Linked DNA regions of Homo sapiens: region 2 is linked to region 1. Evidence: fine-mapped expression QTL. A gene starts in region 1. The other region holds a variant in brackets. All regions are shown on one strand. Distances are from middle to middle. Region 1 holds the start of LINC02175 (long intergenic non-protein coding RNA 2175). Region 2 has its middle 13 kb from the start of ARHGAP17.

Evidence for each region. PIP is the estimated chance that this variant, and not a neighbour inherited with it, causes the effect. A credible set is the group of variants that fine-mapping cannot tell apart.
Region 2: its variant is the best candidate, but not a certain one, in a credible set for the expression of LINC02175 in anterior cingulate cortex (GTEx, PIP 0.58).

What each region holds. Positions count from the first base shown.
Region 1 is chr16:25,063,921-25,069,150 of GRCh38, reverse strand. LINC02175 (long intergenic non-protein coding RNA 2175) reads right to left here and starts at 2,264. Exons shown (of 2, transcript NR_135197.1): 1 at 1,505-2,264; 2 at 196-1,372. RefSeq lists a silencer at 1,972-2,361.
Region 2 is chr16:25,026,119-25,031,610 of GRCh38, reverse strand. No RefSeq gene overlaps it. Among named protein-coding and RNA genes, the nearest start is that of ARHGAP17, 13 kb to the right of the region's middle. RefSeq lists an enhancer at 1-144. The variant G/A (reference allele first, on the strand shown) is at 2,320.

The sequences.
Region 1 (5,230 bases):
CCTGACTCAGCCTCCCAAAGTGCTGGGATTACGTGCACGAGCCATCATGCCCTGCCTTAATTTTTAAAAATTAACTGTAGAGACAGGGTCTCCCTCTCTTGCCCAGGTTGACCTTGAACTCCTGGGCTCAAACTATCCTCCTGCCTCAGCCTCCCAAAGTGCTGGGATTGCAGGCATAAGCCACTACACCCAGCCTAACATGAGGCATTCTTTTTATTTTTTTTTGAGACAGGGTCTCACTCTGTCATACAGGCAGGTGGGTGGTGACAGCGACCATGACCACGGGTCAACCTGGGCCTCAGACACTGGGGAAAGGTGGCCATGTCCAGTTTTCTCAGGAAATTAGGAGGCAGGTCATCCGAGGAGAGAGGGTGTGTCTGGGGTAGGGTGGAGTAGCTTTCAGAAAAGTGTAAGTCTGGCAAAAGCACTCAGGAAAATGGGACAGAAAATGAGCCAAGCGCTGGATGGCAGCGTTCATTCAGCCCAGCTGAGCTTGGAGGCCATGAAATGCTGGCAGCCCCACACTGCAAGACTGCAGGGTCTTTCTGGGCCACGCCCCGAATCCCAGGTATGGAAGTGAAGGACCCAAAAAGAGGAACGAATCAGGCTGTTATTCTGCAGAACAGGTGAAAGAAAAAAGCCAAGTAGACAGAGCCTTGGAAGTCAAAGAGTCACCCACATGCCTGACCCAGTCAGAAGAAAGGGGACCAAGCCAGGGCGGGAGGGACTGTGTGGGAAAGAGGAGGCTGAAAGGAGGAGAGACCGCGGGCAGAGGTGGACAAGGGACCAAGGTGAAGACCTTTGAGGTGCTTCTTGAACCACAGTGGTGAATGTCTTTCTGGACAAGAGTGCCAGTGCCCACCGCCATCACAGGACACAGCCCCATCCGCACTCCCGGGACAGCAACATCTCATTGTCCCAAACTCTGCCAATTTCATCAGTGAAAAGTGGAGCCTGGAAGCTTTGCATTTCTTCAATGACTTCGAATTTTTTAAAATGGTCTCACAGATTTCCTGGTCATCGGTATTTCATCTGAAAAGTCTCTTTCTGTGATATCTGCTCATTAGAGCGGAGTTCTTAAAATTATTAGAGAGTGTTATACATTCAGTATATTCACCTCTGTGGTGGTTGCTCTCAGTTTTGTCCAGTTAGTCATTCATCATAAATTTAACTTTGATATCATAATAAAACAGACAAAAGTGTAGTTATTATGTGCTTAAATCTACAGGTGCTTTTTTAAAAAGTTCTTTTTAGAGACAGGGTTTTGCCCTGTCGCCCAGGCTGGAGTGCAGTGGCGCGATCTTGGCTCACTTCAGCCTCCACCTCTTGGGTTCAAGCCATCCTCCTGCCTCAAACTCCAGAGCAGCTGGGACTACAGGTGAAAATATCACAATTATATGTTAGAGAGAGAGAGAATGAATCATTGTAAAACAATGAAAAGGTGAAGAATGTCTGTTACCTGTGTAAGTAACATCTACATCAACCCTCACCTGAAGTTCCTCACCTCTTCCCTTGCTCTTTTCTTCAGCCCAAACACGGTGTTCAACGTTCTTCCCAGTCACCGCCCAAGGCCGCTGTCTTAGCCCTGCCGTCATCACCTCTCTGAGCCTACTGCAGTAGCTTCCTATCTGGGTTCCCTTTCCATTCCTCCCGGGTCCCGACTCCATCGGCTGCCAGTTGACTTCCCACAGCACCAACTTTTCTCAGCCTTCTGCCTATGAGAGCTCCCCAAATTCTACCACGGGAGCCCTCAAACCATGATCCTCCCCAAAACGTGAACAGCAGCTTCTCGAACCATGGACAGATGGCACAGATGACAACCGAAGCCAATCACCACTGCCTGTCCCTGGAAGTGGACGCTCCGGGTCATGGGTGGCCATGTATCTCGGTCCTGCTATCCTGGGTGGTTGGAGGAATTCTAGCAGTGAGAGTTGAAAACCGCTCGGCGCGCGGCAAGAGAGGATGAAGCCCGAGTCTGACCTGGGAAGGGAGCTGCTCCCCGGGCAGTGGACCCCAGGGCTGGCGGGGAGGCGGCCTCGGTCAGCCCAGTTGGTCTCGGGCCGCTGGGCCTCAGCCCCCAAGCCTGGTGCCCGCTGGCCCCGGAGGAGCTGTCCCGCCCCCTCCGGCACTCGCCTTCCGGGGCTTGGTCGGCTAGCTGCTTCACGCGCGCGGGCTGGGGGCCCCAACGGCGGACGAGCGCTGCTCCCACCGCTCCAGCGCCCAGACTGTAGCGGCTCCGCCTCCGCGGTCCGTTGGCCCCGCCCCCACGTCTCTTCCGGGGCCCCGCCCACCCCCTTCGGGCCCGCCCAGCACGGCCTCCCCTTGTGGCCTGGAGCCCCAGGCCGAGGGCGCAGAGACCAGAAGGCCGAGCTGGGCGGCGACCCCCGTTCTTGCCCGGTCACTTCCTGCGGCGCCGCCTGCCCGCTGGCAAACTGTGGCTGGGAGACCCTTTAAATAGAACGTATTAGCCAAAACTAGAAGAGCAAAATATGTACCATGTTTCAATTTAATGGGATTGCCAGGTGTTTTAAGGGTCCGCCGCAACGGTCCCTCGAGTCCCGGGGTTTTTGTCCCCATCAGATCATTCGTGGTGTGGATCTTCCGGGAGGTTATGGGAAAGGGAGACCAGCAGCCGGCTCCGTGGGCGGCCATACTGCTCCCCCAGGAAGGCCAGGCAAATCTTCAGTGCTGGGATCCCCCTAGTACGTTCATTTTGTCTAGGGTCCAGGTGGGGCCATCGAGCCCCTTGCCCACAGGATTGGTCCTTTGGCATGCAGATAAGCAACACCGCCAAGAAAAGCCCATGGGGTCTTTAGGCTGTTAGGAGACCACCAGGGAGCCATTCCTAAATCTTCCCAGGTGATGGTTCCAAAAACCCTGGTGTTTGGGGAAAGGAAAAAGGGTTATCCACAGGACTATGCTGGAACACTTTCCCAAACAGTGTCTGCCTGGCTGTCCCAAGCAGCCGGTGATGGAGCGATGGTCATGAGGCTAGACCAAAGACCACAGAGTCTAGCCTCACTCTAGTGGAACTCAGGCACCCACCCGTTAGGATGTCGTGTTGCTGCTGCCCCCAGGTGGGAGCCTGGGAAACCACCTGGCCGACACGGGCCACACCTGATGGGACCTCACAAGGAGATACAGTCCATTAACGTTCGTCAGGGTGGGAAGAAGTGGCAACACCTACTGAGATAACAAAACTCATTAGCTGAAGGGCAAGCTGGCCAGCAACTGGCAGTGATGTTCTCAATAGTCCTGGCCGCCTTATAAAACCAGCTACTTAGGCCGGGCACGGTGGCTCACTCCTGTAATCCCAGCACTTTGGGAGGCTGAAGTGGGTGGATCACAAGGTCTAGGAGTTCAAGACCAACCTGGCCAGTATGGTGAAACCCCGTCTCTACTAAAAATACAAAAATTAGCCTGGTGTGGTGGTGGGCGCCTGTAGTCCTAGCTACTTGGGAGGCTGGGGCAGGAGAATCGCTTGAACCCGGGAGGAGGAGGTTGCAGTGAGCTGAGATCGCGCCACTGCACTCCAGCCCGGGAGACAGAGCAAGACTCCGTCTCTAAATAAATAAATAAACAAACAAACAAAACCAGCTACTTAGTAAAGGAGCAGCTAGTTAAAGCTAACCAGGGGTCCTCAATCAAGGATGGGCCACACTGTTTGTGATGCCAATCGTTTTATTCACACTCTTTACTCCATTGATGAAAGAGGGATTCCTTCCCCCCACGCTCCTGCCCCCGCCCCTGTCCCCACCCCCAGAGATACGGGGATGGCCGAACACACAACACTTGATGCAGGACGGATGCAATCAACAGCAGCTGACTGGTCACAGATACTCCAGTCCAGGGGAGAAGGACCCTGCACACTATGCAGGGCAATGTGGAGGCTACACTCCGGAACACGGTAACAAGGAGGGGCTGCTGGAGGCAGGCTTTGTAGTAACAAAAGTGCAGAGTGAGCCCTGGTTCCCACGGGAGGGTGTGACTGGCTTGTCTGAATAATTCGTCCTTGAGCTGGCAGGGAACTGAAGCCTACTGTTTGGGGATAAGCAGGCTCTGTGTCTGATCCCTAAAATAAGGAGAGTGTTTAGCCAGAGAATTTCATCTGCGGAAGCAGACAGGGAGCGAGGCTTGGAGTTCAGCCATTTGAGGCCCTCTTGATTTAAATGGATGTAAAGACAGAATTTGATATGAATCCTAATTTCAGGCCTTACACCACAATACACTATTAAAAAGTAAGTTTTCCGAGAACTAGTCATTGAGTTCAGTGTCACAAGATTTTAAATAAACATTCTAAACTCAACTGTGGCATAGTGGTTCACGCCTGTAATCCCAGCACTTTGGGAGGCCAAGATGGGAGGATTGCTTGAGCCAGAGGTTCGAGACCAGCCTGGGTAAGATGGTAAGGCCCTATCTCTACAAAAAAAATATATAAATTAGCCAGGTATGGTGATGAGAGCCTGTGGTCCCAGTTCCATGGGAGGCTGAGGTGGGAGGACCACTTGAGGCTAGGAGGTCAAGGCTGCATTGAGCCATATTCACGCTGCTGGGCTCCAGCCTGGGTGACAGAGTGAGACCTCATCTCAAAAAATAAAGAAAGAAGATAATTTCACCTATTGCTTAACATAGAAAATGGGAGCCCTCAGAATGAGACTCCCTTAACTTCCCCAAGAAACTTAACCATCCTTTTTTACTCTTACAGTTGTGAATGTCCTCCAGTAAAGACCACATGAAACACTTTGTAGTTAAGCAAGTTGGGTTTATTACTTGTTGCAAGGAGGGAAGACTCACACCATGAGGAGCCTATCAGTAAGAGGATGTTAGACCTTTAGGATCTGGGCTTTGGCTGGGTGATTTGGGGGAGGGTCCAGGGGTTTGCTCTGGATCGAGTGCTGATAGGAGGTAGGAAAATTCTATCATCCGGTAGCGGTATCTTTTCTAGAAAGAGGTTTGGCTGGAGTAGGGCTAAAGCTACAATGTGTAAAGAAGCCACAGTCACTCCTATCAGCTGGGAGAAGGGAATGTCTGGTATTCTGTGGGTGGCACAGTGACCTTGCTTTTGTCCTTACACAGAATGATGACGTGGTCTCGTGTCATCTCCTATCATCACCACTGCAGAGTGTCCTTGTGTGAGTGGTCTGCATGATTGTTTATGTCCAATAGGAGAACAACATGGCCTTGTTGTGGGCACCAGCCAGCTTCCAAAAACATACGGCCTGGCTCACAG
Region 2 (5,492 bases), 38 kb after region 1:
CCAACCCGGAAGTTTGCCGACGGAGAAAGGAAACTAAAAGTCAGTGGCGGAGTACCGCGATGCTTTCTGGGAAGTGTAGTCTTAGGTGCCTGGAGAGGCCACCAGGTTTCTTCTGACTCGTCACGGAATTTTAAGGGCAGAGAATCCAGCCAGAAGCAAATGTCAGCTGTTACGTTCAGTCTGGGCTCGTTGTCACTCAACAGTTTAACAAAATTTTGTTAAGTGCTGTCCATGCCAGGGACTGTGCTAAGAGCTTTAGAGACATAATCGCCTTTGAAATGTAGTAAAGGAAGTAGCGTGTGGAAAAGTAATAGAATGGGAAACCACGTGGCAGTAAAAATCAATGAACTCGAACTCTCAGGTAGCATCAAGGGCTGAATTTCAGAAACGTGATGTTCAGTGAAAGAAGGAAGTCTAACGACACTTTTGTAAAGTTCAAACCAAGTAAAACTAATGTTGTTTAGAGAAACATACATATACGGTAAAATACTGTACAGAAAAGCCAAGACATGAGAAAAAAAAAAAAGTCAGGACATTGATGACCTCTAGGGAGTGGGACGGTAGCATACGAGAGGGTAGGGAGAGGCAGGGAAGGAGCACATAGACACATTCTCAGTTTCTCAGGTGGGAGTGAGTTCACGTGTGTCTGTTTCATTATGATGCATATTCAAGATGCATCTATTTTTACTAGTTTTGTTATAAAATATTTTATAAATAAAAGAAGAACTATGCTACTGTATTCCACTTGATTATCTGTCAGGTGTTGGACACAGGCAATGGGTATACTTTAAGAACTTTGAATCACACCTATTTAAAAAAGCAAAATAGCTCTCTCTCTTCTGCCGCCACGTAAGATGTACCTGCTTCCCCTTCCACCATAACTGTTAAGTTTCCTGAGGCCTCCCCAGCCATGCAGAACTCAACATCCTTGCGACTGGGGGCCATTATCTTAAGTGAAACAACTCAGACACAGAAAGTAAAATATGCATGTTCTCGCTTCCCTGCCTACAAGCTGAGCAGACGCCAGCACCATGCTTCCTGTAAAGCCTGCAGAACCACGAGCCAATGAAACTGCCTTTCTATATAAGTTTTTTTTTTTTAAAGCAAAATAACAGAAACCCAGAATATACACCTTGGGGTGAGATCAGATAGCAAATGCTTGCTTAGTATTCAGTGGAGACACAAGATCTCATTGACAGTCAAGGCAGAAATGACAGTGGGGAATGGCTGAGGTTAGGAAGTTTTGCCAGGGATAGCAGCAATGGGCTGAAATACACCATTTTGTTGGAGCATTCCTCTACCAAAAAGGTAATACAAACCACTGCGCAAGCATTGTCTCCCAGCTTGGCAGTGTCTAAATTCCATGGGTGTTAGTGGATAATGTCAAACAGTAAGTAGCACAAGATGTTAATCCCACAGGTCTGGACGGTGAGACTGAAGGTGACTAGAAGAAGGTGGAGGCAGATGTATTGGCACACCTTTGTTATTGGGTGAGCCTTGATTCAAAACAGCTGGTAATTCAGGGAAATTTGGTTAGTTGGACTCTAGACAAAGTGAACTTACTGGGTGTGGACCACGACACTAGTAGATTGACTGGCATTCTCTGGAGGAGGAGGATGGCTACCCATAGAGCAGGCTGCTGGCCTCCCTTTCCTCATAACCTCTGAGAAGAGTCACATGTGATCTGATGACAAAAAAACCCTGTAACTTGAGGGAATTTGGACAGGGGTGGGGATACCCTTAAAACACCTGGAATCCAGCCAGGCACGGTGGCTTATGCCTGTAATCCCAGCACTTTGGGAGGCCAAGGTGCACGGCTCACCTGAGGTCAAGAGTTCGAGACCAGCCTGGTCAACATGCTGAAACCCCATCTCTACTAAAAATACAAAAATCAGCTAGGTGTGGTGGCGGGTGCCTGTAATCCCAGGTACTCAGGAGACTGAGGCAGGAGAATCACTTGAACCTAGTAGGTGGAGGTTGCAGTGAGCCGAGACCGTGCCATTGGACTCCAGCCTGGGTGACAAGAGCAAAACTCCATCTCAAAAAAGAAGAAGAAGAAGAAGAAGAGGAAGAGGAAGAAGAAAAAGAAGAAGAAGAACCACCTGGAATCCCACTAAATTGAAACATGGTACACTGTCAGCCCAAGTGGCTACACTTCAGGCAGTAAGCACTGAATGGCTATCTTAGTCCATTTTGGCTGCTATAACAAAATATCATAAACTAAGTGACTTATAAACAAAAGAATGGCTGGGCACAGTGGCTAATACCTATAATCCCAGCACTTTGGGAGACTAAGGTGGGAAGATCACTTTAGCTCAG[G/A]AATTCAAGACCAGTCTGGGCAATGTGGCGAAACCCCATCTCTACAAAAAAATTTAAAAACTAGCTGGGTATGGTGGAGTGTACCTGTAGTCCCAGCCTTGGGACTGGGCTGAGATGGGGAGGATCACTTGAGTCTAGGAGTTCAAGACTACAGTGAACTATGATTGCACCACTGCACTCTAGCCTGGGTGACAGAGAGAGACCCTGTCTCAAAAAATAAATACATATATACATACATAAAAATAAACCACGGAAATTTATTTATCATGGTTCTGGAGGCTGGCAAGTCCAAGGTCAAGGCAGATTCTGTGTCTGGTGAGGGCCTGCTTTCTGACTCATAGATGATGCTGTCTTGCTGTATCCTCACTTGGTCAAAGGAGCGAGGTGTCTCTCTCAGGTCTCTCTTATAAGGACACTAATCACATTCATGATAACTCTGCCCTCGTGGCCTGATCGCTTCACAAGAGCCCCACATCCTAATACACTGGGAGTTAAAATTTCAGCATTTGAGTTTCAGGGAGACAGAAACATTCAGACCACAGCAATGCCCTAGCCAACAAATGACTCCATCTCCATATTTATAGCAAACTCTTGGGCCATTGTCTAAGAATTGTTCCCTTTGTGCTCATAAAGAACTCTGGGAATCTCTTGCCTCATAAATACTGAAAATATAAACCGAGGTAATAGATAACTCATGTTTTTAAAATGGTCGGGTGTGGTGGCTTATGCCTATAATCTCAGCACTTCGTGAGGCCAAGGCAGGAGGATCACTTGAAGTCAGGAGTTCGAGACTAGCCTGGCCAACATGGCAGTCTCTACTAAGAATACAAAAATTAGCTGGCTACCTGGGAGGCTGAGGCATGAGAATCACTTGAACCCAGGAGGTGGAGGTTGCAGTGAGCTGAGATTGTATCACTGCACTCCAGCCTGGGCGACAGAGTGAGACTCTCTCTCAATTAAAAAAAAAAAAAAAGATATCTCTACATCTACGTATACAAAGGCCACAATATAAGGTCTCACTGTGGCACTCCATATACTCTTGGAAGTCCTACACATTACTGGTAGTGATCAGGGTACTTATTTCACATCTCAGAATCCACAGTGCCTCATGGGCTCTTGGAGAAGGCATTAATAGAACCTTCCACTTCTCTGATATCCCCAAGCAGCAGGCTCGAGAGGCATACGTGCTCCTGGAAGAACTCTTATTTAAGTTACAAAGTGGAAAATGCACATCATCCCTTCACACCTCCACTCCTGTTTCCCTGTCACCACAGTCATCGATTAGTCACACCTCAGCGGGGACCCACAATTCCTATGCCAGTGCCACACAGGTCCCTCAATTGCCTGTATTGGCCAGCCTGGGGGACATCTGTAAAGCTCATGTTTTTGAAGACTACCTCGCCCTGTGGTCCTCTTTCTCGTGGTTAGGTGCTAAACCCAGGAGGTGGAGGCTGCAGTGAGCTGAGATCGTGCCCCACTCCACTCCAGCCTGGGTGACAGAGGGAGCCTCTGTCTCAAAATAAATAAATAAATAAAATAAAAGTAAAATGTTTCTAGTGCAAACTTTGTTGAAGGCATCACCCTGCTATGATTAGGCTTATGGGTTTAAAGTTATTTGGGTAATAGTCTGTTTGGGGTTTGCAAGAAGTGACACGTGGCTGGAGGGTGGTCTATGAGTAGAAAGCAAGGCTCTAAAGGCAAGTCCTCAAATACCCTGTTAAAGTTTGGACTCCAGGCAGTGGAAACTCCTGAAATAATTTAAAGTAGGTAAGCAACGTTATCAGATTTTCATGCCAGAAAGTCCACCCTCATGGCGGTGTGGGGAATGGATTCAAGGGAGGCCAGGAGTGGAACCAGCAAGGTCAGTAAGGAGTCAATTGCCCCAGTCCATATAAGGACAGGAAGGAATGGACCACAGACATGGGGACAGGGAAAAGAGGAACAAAATGTGATATATTCATTGGTTCATTGGATATGAAGGGGGTGTGAAAGAGAGAGAGAGACACAGCACTTTGTTAGGCCGAGGAAGGCAGTTCACCTGAAGTCAGGAGTTCGAGACCAGCCTGGCTAACATGGTGAAACTCCGTCTCTACTAAAAATACAAAAAATTAGCCAGCTGTGGTGGTGCACACCTGTAATCCCAGCTACTCAGGAGGCTGAGGCATGAAAATTGCTTGAACCTGGGAGGTGGAGGTTGCAGTGAGCCCAAGTTGCGCCACTGCACTCCAGCCCAGGTGACAAAGTGAGACTCTGTCTCAAAAATACAGGGGAGAGAGAAAGAGAGAGATCAGTCATGGTTCTGAGGCCTCTTCCTTGGGTTATAAGAAGGCTATAATGGAAGATATTGAGTTTCTTTTACTTTTCTATTATTATTATTATTTGAACAGGGTCTCACTCTGCAGCCTCTACCTCCTGGGCTTAGGAAATCCTCCCACTTCAGCCTCTGGACACACCCACATGAGTGTGCCTAGCTGAGACTACATGCATGTGCCAACATGTCTAGCTGATTAAAAAAAATTTTTTTGTTTTTGAGTTAGAGTCTTGCTCTGTCGCCCAGGCTGGGTGGAGTGCAGTGGCATAATCTTGGCTCACTGCAACCTCCGCCTCCTGGACTCAAGCTATTCTCCTGCCTCAGCCTCCCAAGTATCTGAAATTATAGGTGTGCACCACTACGCCCGGCTAATTTTTTGTATTTTTAGTAGAGATGGGGTTTCACCACATTGGCCAGGCTTGTCTTGAACTCCTGAACTCAAGTGATCCACCCACCTTGGCTTCCCAAAGTACCGGGATTAAAGGCATGAGCCACCGTGCCTGGCTAATTTTTTTGTAGAGACAGGGTTTCCCTATGCTGCCCAGGCTGGTCTCCAACTCCTGGGCTCAAGCAATCCTCCTCCCCAAAATGCTGGGATTACAGGCATGATGCTTCTTTTTTCTTTTTTTTTGAGACAGAGTCTTGCTCTGTTGCCCAGGCTGGAGTGCAGTGGGGCTATCTCAGCTCACTGCAACCTCTGTCTCCCGGGTTCATGCCATCCTCCTGCCTCAGCCTCCCGAGTAGCTGAGACTACAGGTGCCCGCCACCACGCCCAGCTAATTTTTTGTATTTTTAGTAGAGACGGGGTTTCACCGTGTTAGCCAGGATGGTCTCGATCCCCCGACTTCGTGATCCACCCACC